Homo sapiens: one gene and its partner. The protein of the gene in region 2 interacts with the protein of the main gene of each other region in a pairwise test. Each region holds a gene or a part of one and is shown on either strand. Other genes may lie near its edges.

Region 1 (4,573 bases), on a different chromosome or scaffold from region 2:
TGTTAGATTCACAGGAGTCCCTTTAATACAAAGAAAATATTTCTGTTTGGATAACCTATACAGTACTTAGTTCAGGCCTCTTGGGGAAAAGAAAAGTGGAAAAGTATCTACACTGTCAATTTGGAGACTGGGCAGACTGGGACCATGTAGCAACAGAAGTTCTACATATAAACAGCGTTACTCAAATCATGTGTGATTGTGAGATTAGGATCTGTGCCCAAAGGAGATTGAACTGCTGAACACTGTCTTGAGCTTTGTCTACTAACCATGCTTAACACAAAAGGACAAGAATTGCATGTTAACAGTGAGGGTCTGGAGCATAGCCAGTCCAGCAGCACCTCGGCAGTGCCTGCTGCAACCCAGCTGTGCTGGTGTGGTCTCACAGAAAGGATGGAGGACAGGAACAAGATTTCCAGATGGCTCTTGTTCAGGGAGTTTAAGAGGGTAGCTTCAAGAAAGGAGGGAACTGGACTCAAAAAATATAAAACATAATACTTTAAAGTACAACTTTAAATGACACCGCAGAATTAAGGAAACAATCAAAGCAGCAGATCTGCTTCCCTATCAGATAGGAGAAGCTCATTTTGTAGAGAGTGTGGGCCACAAGTACTGGGAAGCAAATGCACAAAGAATAATAGGTCCAGCCAACAGTTGCAGTAACAAAGGACGGTTTTTACCTGCATTGAGTGTACAGTTCACTGCTGCATGTACAACATAAGCAAAACAAAAACAGTGGTAGAAATAAATAAAAGTAAAGTCTGAGGCCCTTATGGAAGAATCATACTACTACCTGCTTTTTCCGTGGCTAAAAATGCCTTATAAATTTCATATCTTGAGAATTTCACTTATTTATGCCAAAGTAAGTTTGTTTTAAAATAGTACTCATTTGTAGTGCAGTAACATTTTACTTATATAAAGATTAATTCAAGCTTTTAAAAGTCTGAAGTTTAGAATATTTTAAAGATAGAATTTATTATTTTTAAGCACTTATGTTATCTTTTAGAACTCTTTTGAAGGGAACTTTTATGAAGATATTAGTTAATTTTGAATAGCATGATAATTGTTGCATGTAACTGGAGGCTTCTATAGTGTTTAAAGAAAACTTTTTGTAGGTTATATGTATACCTGTTATTTACATTACTAATTACATCAACAAATCCTTATTTTCATAGACATTCCTTTCAAATTCAGTGAATTCTGGGAGAGCCGAGGTCATATGCTATTAGGGTTTGTATAAAGGTAGAGTCCCTTGCATAAAGCAGGCATTTGTTAACTAGTGAGATTTTTCCCCATTTAGTTTAAAAACGTTACTTTGTTAAATGTCTTTTTCTTTTAATTGTGAGTTTTGAAATCTTATTTTTGTAGGGGTAGAAAACTCTGGTTATCTCCCCCAAATTCCCCTTCCTCAGCCCTGCTGAATCTGGTAAAGTCACTTGTTCAGTGTGCTTTCATTTTTCCTTTCTCTTTTATTTGCCACAGTTCTTACCTGTGCTTCAGGCTTGTCTTGCCTTGTGCCTCTGTTCTCTTCATATAAACAGCATGAAATTGGAAATACTCATTGTCTGTTGTATTTCTGAAGATCAGAATTTTCCCCAGTTTCATGCTGTCCTTTCTCAGGCAGGGTGTGGTAAGTCATCTTTTGAGAACTGTTTCCAGTAAAACTGGAGTATGCTGTTGAAACTGTTGGTGTGCCCTCTTCAGAAACAAAACCAGGAGACTTGCTGTTTATTGCATGAGTCACTGATGGGTTTCAATGAGTGGAAGCAATATTAGATTTTTTTTTTCATGCTCATCAATGCTACATCTTATTTTAAAAGAAGCCTGAAATAAGGAAATAAAAGTAAGCTAATAAACTCCTTCTTTCCCTGGGGAGAATTTAGAATTATATTGGTTCTAGTGTTTGGGGAATAAAGCGGTAACAATGAGGGTTAAAAAAAAATTAGGCCTTGTCCTTTAACCCGTGATACCCTGTAGTGCTCAGAGCTTTCTGGTGTGTACATTTTCTCAAGCTGCACATGAGTAACTTTAATCAGGAGCGAAGTGGTTCTTTCTATTATATGCCATTTCCTCTGTGGCCCCTGCCTCACTTAGCTATTACTGTATGCCTAATCGACCAGAGTGAAATGCCTTTAAAACATTTTCCAGGGAACTAAGGACTTTTTGCAGAATTTTTATAATAGAAAATGCCAAGGAGAGGAAAGTTTTAATGGTTTCTCTGCACAGATAAATGTTTCCAGAGCAGACTGATGATGAGTCAAGGAGCTGTTAATAGGATATGTAAATGTAACCTTTCACCTAGTTACTGTCACTACCTAAGTCATAACTACCTGGTGTCAGTAAATTATTTGAACTAGTTCTTGTCTAGTTCCCTAATTAAACAGACTCTCTTGGTCCCATGATTATCCAGTAGATAGTTAGCACTGTTTCAGCTTGCATTGTCCTGGGTTCCTCCACTCTCCTTCTGTTTTAATAATAGCTCTAAGTCCTATTATAGATTTTCACTAATATCTTTGCCTCCAGCTTTACCTCAGTATTAGTGGAAAAATTTTTTATCTATGTATTTGACAGTGACCTCTAGCTCTTGGGTTTCACTTATTCAACAAATATTCATTCAGTGTCAGCCATGTACCTAGCACTGTTCTTGACCCCAGAGATCCAATAATGAGCAAAAAATTCCTGGTCTGCATTATCATGGAGTGAAGAGTATAGGAGGAAGACAATCCCTAATAAAATTTACACACGACAGCAACAACAACAACAACAACAAATAATTATGTATAATTACAGGCAGAGGTAAATGCTCTGAATAGAACAGTAGAATTTTGTGGGCTTATATAATAGGAACCTGAGGAAGTGACACTTGATTGATATCTGAAGTATGAGTAGGAGAATGTGAGATAGGGTAGGAAGAAAAGTGTTCCAGAAAGCAGAGAGAACTGCCATTTGTGCAGAGGCCCTTTACAGAAGGGAACAGAATGAAATCAAGTAACTGAGGAAGATCAAGGGGAGAGAAGAGCTACTGTGAGGCTGGACCCCTTGGCTGGTGGCCGGCCAGTCCACAAAGGGTCTTGCTGGCCACATGAAGAATTTGGTTTTCCTCATAAGAACATAGGAGAGTGTTTTAGGTCGGAGCTGGGGACTTGATGTGATTTGTGTTTTGGTAAGATCATCTGTGGGGGCGTGAGTTGGATTGGGGTGTGCATGTCAGTGGGGTGAAATTGGGTAGCTCTTGCATTAATTTAATTTGACATGACAGTGTGTACCAGTCTGGTGGTGGATACTGGGAAGTGGCAGTGAAGATAGATCGAAAGTGTTTTGGGGGGAATACCATTAATTGAACTCGGGAATAAGTTGGGGTTTTCTTTTATTTATTCAAAAAATATTTAGCGACTCCCTACTTTATGCTACTCTCTGTGCCAGGCTCTAGGAATAAAACTCTGAACAGTACATAAAATGTCCTTGGACTCATGGAGCTTACTTATTAATGGGAGTGACAGATAATCATTAAGTGTAACATATATATTAAAAACATATATATAATAAATATATATATAATTTCAGGTACTAATAAGTCCTGTAAAGAAAAATTAGGCAAATAAGGGAATGGAGAATGATAGCAGAGGGTCCTCTTACACAGGATGGTCAACAAAAACCTCTTGAAGAGGTAGCATTTGAGCAAAAACCCAGATGAAGTCGGGGAACTAACTGTGCAAAGATTCTCTACGAAGCAGCGGTAACAGGTATAAGATATTGAGGCTGGAACAAAGGAACTCTGCCTCTATACCTCCACCACCAAGGAATACCAAGAAGGCCAGTATGTCCAGAAATACGGGGCGTGAGGGAAGAAAAGTGTTAAGAATGTCTTGCTGGTAGCTAAAACTTAAAGCATCTATATGGGGTCATTATCTTCAGTCCTGATCAGTTTTTCAAAGTCCCTTACTATATCAACTACAATCCCAGGTTGCTCCGCCACTAAACTGATTTTAACACAGCTACTAGAACAGCTTCCTTTACCACAACAGCAAACCGTGCTCAAAAACTGTCAGTGGTAACTGCTTGTCTGTCTTGTCAATGACAATCCCTTCATCAGCCCAGCTAAAAGTCCCCAATCTTACTTCAACCCCACATGCTGTTGCAACCCTTTCTGTACTTCTTATTCAGTTGAAGGCTTCCCTTTAATGTTTGTTTAGGCTTTCCACATAATTTATTCTTTTCTTTTTTGGCATTGTTTTTATTCATCATGAAGCCTCTTTTCTTTCTATTGGCCTATTTCCATCACTTCCTTCAAGAGTTATTTTTTCCACCAGTTTCTTCTGATTTATTCCAGCTTACCTGGATCACAGAACCCCTCAGCCTACTCAGTCTATGTGATGTTATTTTTGTCCTTCCTTGAGTCACTTGAAGAAGCTCTACTTTTAAAGTGCCACCATTGTTCCAAGTTAAAATATTCATGATTGTATTCATTTTTCCTAGAAAAGATTTGGCACCAGTAGTTGCCCTGCCATGTATATATGTGACATTGGCCAAAACAGTCAACGTTCAGGTTTCTTGTCAATAAGATGAAGATACCAAG
Region 2 (5,561 bases):
CAGCACCCCTGAGCAGGCTCAGGCCTCTGCACAGGTGGGCAGGTAGGCCTGGCTCCTGCTCACAGATCCCTGCTCCTCACCTGCCTCCTCCACTCCCAGAACCCAGTCCCTTCCTTGGCCTTTTCTCCCCGAGGCTTCTTCCTCCTGCTAGAGCAGGAGGAGGGAGGCCATCGAGGGCAGCTCAGGGAAGGCTGTCTTCAGGGTGGGGGACGGTGTCTGTCCATTCTAGGAAATAGCATCAGCGCTGTTAGTGCCTGTCACCATGGCGACCCGAGGGCAGGAACAATCAAGGGACGTGTGTGATGTGTGCAGAGGAGCGGGGGTGGCTGGAGTTTGGTGGGGACACACTGCCCTAGAGGTCTCTGAGTGGGAGATGGGGGAGGGAGTGCCAAGTCCTTTTCCTACCACCTCACACCCTAGCTCAGGGCTCGGGGTCTGTGGGAGCACAAGGGCAAGACCCGGAGGACACCCTGCTCTAATCAGAACACCTTTTTCTTGAGGATTGGGGTGGGGGAGACGGAGAGAGATTCACAGGTTGCTAGGAGCTCAGACGTGATGCCAGGAGGCCTTGCCCAAGCTGGGATACTTGGGAAACAACTTTCAGCTTCATGTGCAAGTGGAAGAATTAAAATTAGGACTCTGACACAGTTGGAGAGGTCCCCCAAAGGGCATGGCAGCTTCTGCTGCAGTCCCCAGGCAGTTGGGGGCCTGTAGAAACCCACATGGAGGCTGTGCAAGAGGGAGGCAAATGATGGTTGAGGGAATCATTACTTCCTGGAGCCAGTTGTGTGTGTCTTAATTTGAGCTTTTTTCTCCAACCTGTCTTGCTCGTTTTCTAAATGGGAGAAAGATGAAGCCAGCAGGGAGTGCGTAATGTTTGCATGCAGCAGGGCTTTCGTGACTGTGTTTTTTGAAAAGGCCTTGTTAAGGAAATGCTGACGATGAGTGAAACTTGCCAGGTCTGGCTGATAACATGGGTGAGTGCCCTGATCCTGGAAGGAGGTCTCAGAGAGAAGGGACAGCAGGGGGCGAGGGATACCCAGAAGGAAGCTTCTGCATGTGTACGTGGTTCAGGAAATCGGCATGCTCTTGCCCAGACAATGTTCCTTCCCTTATTGGTGTGTTGACTCACCCATCATTCGTTCCATTCTCACTGGGCATCTTCTATGTGGCAGGGCCTGTACCATGTGCTGGGGCCTTTGGAGACCATCCCATTCCTTGTCCAGTCTCATAAAGGCCTGTTACTAAAGCACCGTAGATGCTGAGAGGTCCGATTTGTGTAGAAATCAATGGGCCAGGAGAGAGAGAGCTGATGAAGAATGCTGGTCCGCTGGGGGCTCCTTTGCCTCCTCCATCTCTCCCTGCATCATCAGGCACAGTAGATCTGGGCACACAACCTGCTTAGTAGCTGCTGTTGAGTGGACACTGATGTGCTAAAGACATAGACAATGGTGACAGGAAAGGCTATGAAGTGGTTCTGTCCTGGAAATGTGCTCCAGGCAGAGATTCCCAAAGTCATACGTGCACACTCATGGTCCACCCACCACACCCTCACACACACATGTCTACATACCTTAATATGCACATGCTTACCTATCTCAGACACATCTCCAACACTGAGGGAGGGGCCAACGGAGACGAGCATGGAGACAGCCAGTGCAGAAGGCCATTGAGGGCGGTGGGAGTGGGTATGGGATTGCAGCCCTGAATTCGAGCCCCACCTGTGCCCTTCTGAGTCCCTGATCCATCTCCTCATATGTCATGTGAGGAAGGAAAATCCAATTTTAAATCAACCAACACAGACCCTGAGCTCTCAGGGTGATCTGGGCATTGAGGCTCTGAAGGTGAGTGAGGCCCAGGCTCTACCCTCAAGGAACTGGGAACCAGTTGTATTAATTCTCTATTGCTGCAGAACGATTAACCCTGAAACTTAGCTACTTAAAACAACGAACCATTGTTATCTCACAGTTCCTGTGGCCTGCAATCTCGGTTCAACTTAGCTGGGTACCTTGTGGCTCAGGATCTCACAGAGAAAACTCTTTAGGCAAGAGCATGTGGATTTCCTGAATCACATACACATATAGAAACTTCCTTCTTGGGCATCCCCCACCCCCTGCTGTCCCTTCTCTCTGAGACCTCCTTCTAGGATCAGGGCACTCTCAGAGAAGCAGCCAGCTGTCACCAGGGTTGCTGTCATCTCAAGGCTTAACTGGGGATGGAGAATCTACTTCCAAGCTCATTCAAGAGGCAGTTGGCAGGAAGCCGCAGTTGCTGGCCAAAGGCTGGAGGCCTCCATTTCTTGCTGCAGAGACCTCCATCTAGGCCTTCTGAGTTCTCTCAGCACATGGCAACTGGTTTCCCCCAGAGCAAGTGATCAGAGAAAGAGAAAGAGAATGCAAAACAAGCCACAGTGTCTTTTATAACAATCAGAAGTGACATGCCATCACTTCTGCCAGAGGTTCCTGGGTCACATGAAACAATGCTGATACAACGTGGACTAACTACCCAAGGGTATGAGCACAGGAGGTGGGGATCCCTAGGGGCCATCTTAGAGGCTGTCTACTACACAAGTCAAGTCTCAGCCGAGTGGAAAGTAGTATTGTTGTAGCTGTTGTTATTGTAGGCCACTGCGGACAGTTAGTTGGTCAGCTGGCATCAAGGACTGGGCTCCTGTCTCCATTCCAGGATTCTGCCGAGCCCTCTTGAAGGTGCACAGTGGTAGGGAAGAGATGACTGAAAGGACATCCAGTGCCTTTAGGAGTTGACTGGCAACGTGGGCTGAAGCAAGAGAGAAAATGGGCATCAGAGGGTTCGCCTGCTCCTTGCCTCATCCGTCATGCTGTCCCCACCGCATGGCCCAGTCCCGCTGCTGTTTGTGTGTCTGTGGCCTGGTAACTTAGCCGGGACTCTGAGGGCAAGTCCTGACAGTGTGCCTGGCACACAGGAGGTGGGGGACTGATGACTGATGAGGACCTCTCTGTAAGGAAGAGTCTGGGGGTCCGCATGGGGCTCCTGCTGCCTCTGTTCTCCCAGGTGCCCAGAAAAAAACTAGAAAACATAGTTGGAGGCCAGGCAAGGAGAGGGGCTGGAAGTGTGAGGGGCTTGGGGCAGGGAGAGGCCTCGGCATGTAGACTGTGGCTCTGGCCTGCCAGCCCCTCTCCCCTTCTGTCTTTCCCTCTCTCTTAGGTGTTCCCCTGCTGTTTGTTGTCCCCTGGGGCATTGTCAAGTACCTCTATGAGGACGAGGGGTGAGTGTCCTGCTCCAAGGGGGCGGGTGTGCCCAGGTCCCCATCCTCAAGGTCCATGGGATTCCTTGGTACCTGGGGCACCCATCTGTTGAGAGGATAAAGGGGGGTACCAGGAGCTTAGAAGGTGAATTTAGTTCTCTAATCTCCCCTCCCTGCCCCTGCCCCTGCCCCTGCCCCTGTCCCAGGATTGTTTGATGACTAACGGAACTGGGTCTGTGGGGTACATGGTGCCCTCCTGCAGGTTTTTCTGTAATATCTGCAAGTGAAATGTTTGTGTCATTTTGTATATGATGCTGGGTACACACATGACTGTGTTGGTAGGTCCTTGAAAGCTTGTTTGGGGGCTGTGTGCATCTCTGTGTATGACTGTGTATTTGGACTATGCGTGTGTGTTGTGTGGCTGTGCACTGGCAGGGCTCTGTGGGTCCATGGGACTGGTTTTTGGGTGGCTCCTGGGAGCTGTGTGTGTGGCACTCAACATGGCCATGTGCATTGGCGGCCTCTGTGCCTGCACCTGAGCTGGGGGTCCTGTGAGTCCTGCTGGATGCATGTGTGCATCTCTCTCCCTCCCCAGCTGCTGGACCAGGAACTCCAACATGAACTACTGGCTCATTATCCGGCTGCCCATTCTCTTTGCCATTGGGGTGAGTGATGGTGTCAGGGATGGGAGTGGCAGCTATGATAGGGCTGGGCTGGTGCCCCCTGCCAATCCCCGGCCCCACCCCGCAGGTGAACTTCCTCATCTTTGTTCGGGTCATCTGCATCGTGGTATCCAAACTGAAGGCCAATCTCATGTGCAAGACAGACATCAAATGCAGGTGATGTAACTGAGCTGGCTTTACTGAGGACCCTCAGCAAGTGCCCCTTTCCTTCTAGCAGAGAGAGAGAGAGAGATCCTGGGATGCTTAGCTTAGAGCCCTACACTACCCTCTCCTTCCACCCAGGCCTGGCCTTGGACCCCAAACCCTTGCTTTTGCCCTGTCTCTGGGCAGCCCCTGGACTTGTTGGGGTCTTGACCTCTATTCTTTCCCTCCAGGCAGCCTGTCCCAGGGTATTTGGGGTGGGAGAACATCCATGACCCAGATATCAGGACTTGGTAGGAAGTGGGGAGGGTAGAGAAAGGGAAGAAGAGTCCATGGGAGAGGTCCAGAATGACTCGAGATCTCTGCCCTGCCCCTCAGACTTGCCAAGTCCACGCTGACACTCATCCCCCTGCTGGGGACTCATGAGGTCATCTTTGCCTTTGTGATGGACGAGCACGCCCGGGGGACCCTGCGCTTCATCAAGCTGTTTACAGAGCTCTCCTTCACCTCCTTCCAGGTGACTTCATGCTTGGGGACACTTGCTTGTAAAGTCCTAGAGTGGGGGTGGGACAGACACCAGCCTGCATCATGCAGATGGAAAAGGTGGGAAGACTGGGACCTGGAGGGGTGATCCCTGCCCAAAGTCACCTAGTTGGAGCAGAGCCAGAACTAGTATCCCCAGGTGTCCCAATACCTGGGCCAGTCTTCTCTGTAAGCACATGGGACAAGAAGCCTTCCTGGATGTAGCTCTGGGTACCAGCCTGGCATTGCAGCTGCCATCTACTTGGTGGCGAGCACCCTGCCAGGTGCTTTACATGCATTGTGCATTTACTCCTCACAGAACCCAGGAGATGTGCAGGGTTAGCCTCACTTTACAGAGGAGACTCAGAGGTGTTAAAACCAGAGTTACGGTGTCACAGTTTCAAAGAAAAGAACTGATCCTCTCCACTAGCATTAGATGATGCTAAGGGGGTGTAAAAATACAAAAAAACTGGTCCCTGCCTGCCCCTCAAGAGTGTCATGAGATGCCTGCACACATGTGGGCTCATGTGTGTGTATTTACATACATGTGCAGACATACAGAACACAATTCTGGAGCCCTGGGTCTCCTTCATGAACAGATGGGGCTGGAGTGGGGAATATTCTCCATGATCAGAGTCATTGTACTTCACTGGATCAGGCCTCCTCAAGGAGAGGTTGGATGTAGGATCTCTACAGCTTCTGGGCAGCTTCTGAGCAGGGTCTCCTGGACCCCATGGCACATGCCTGGGAGACCCATGGGGAGAGGCTAGCTGGGGCCTGTAGCCAGGCCTAGTCGCAGAGGTGCAACCCTGGTGTTCCTTCAGAAAGGAAATGAGAGGGAAGCCACTGCCCCATTCCTGGATCTGCCTGGGCCGCTGGATTTGGGGAGGGGGTTGTTGAGGATGGAGTCCCAAAGTGCTTCCGACCAGGGCCAGTCTGCAGGGCACCTCCCTCCTGCTTCCTCCCTCTTGATGTGACTCTTGTTTCCA

Evidence for each region. Proteins that work in one complex are often made in the same cells at the same time.
Region 1: the proteins of GLP1R (region 2) and PAM interact in a protein complementation assay, tested with the Homo sapiens proteins (one study listed by BioGRID).

What each region holds. Positions count from the first base shown.
Region 1 is NC_000005.10:102,760,750-102,765,322, forward strand, and holds part of PAM (peptidyl-glycine alpha-amidating monooxygenase isoform e preproprotein), read left to right. Parts: intron 1-4,573. UniProt on the Homo sapiens protein: Bifunctional enzyme that catalyzes amidation of the C-terminus of proteins. Alpha-amidation is present at the C-terminus of many endocrine hormones and neuropeptides and is required for their activity.
Region 2 is NC_000006.12:39,075,136-39,080,696, forward strand, and holds part of GLP1R (glucagon-like peptide 1 receptor precursor), read left to right. Parts: intron 1-2,394; exon of another isoform or gene 2,395-2,778; intron 2,779-3,186; coding exon 3,187-3,247; exon of another isoform or gene 3,248-3,332; intron 3,333-3,761; exon of another isoform or gene 3,762-3,821; coding exon 3,822-3,891; intron 3,892-3,976; coding exon 3,977-4,065; intron 4,066-4,428; coding exon 4,429-4,567; intron 4,568-5,561.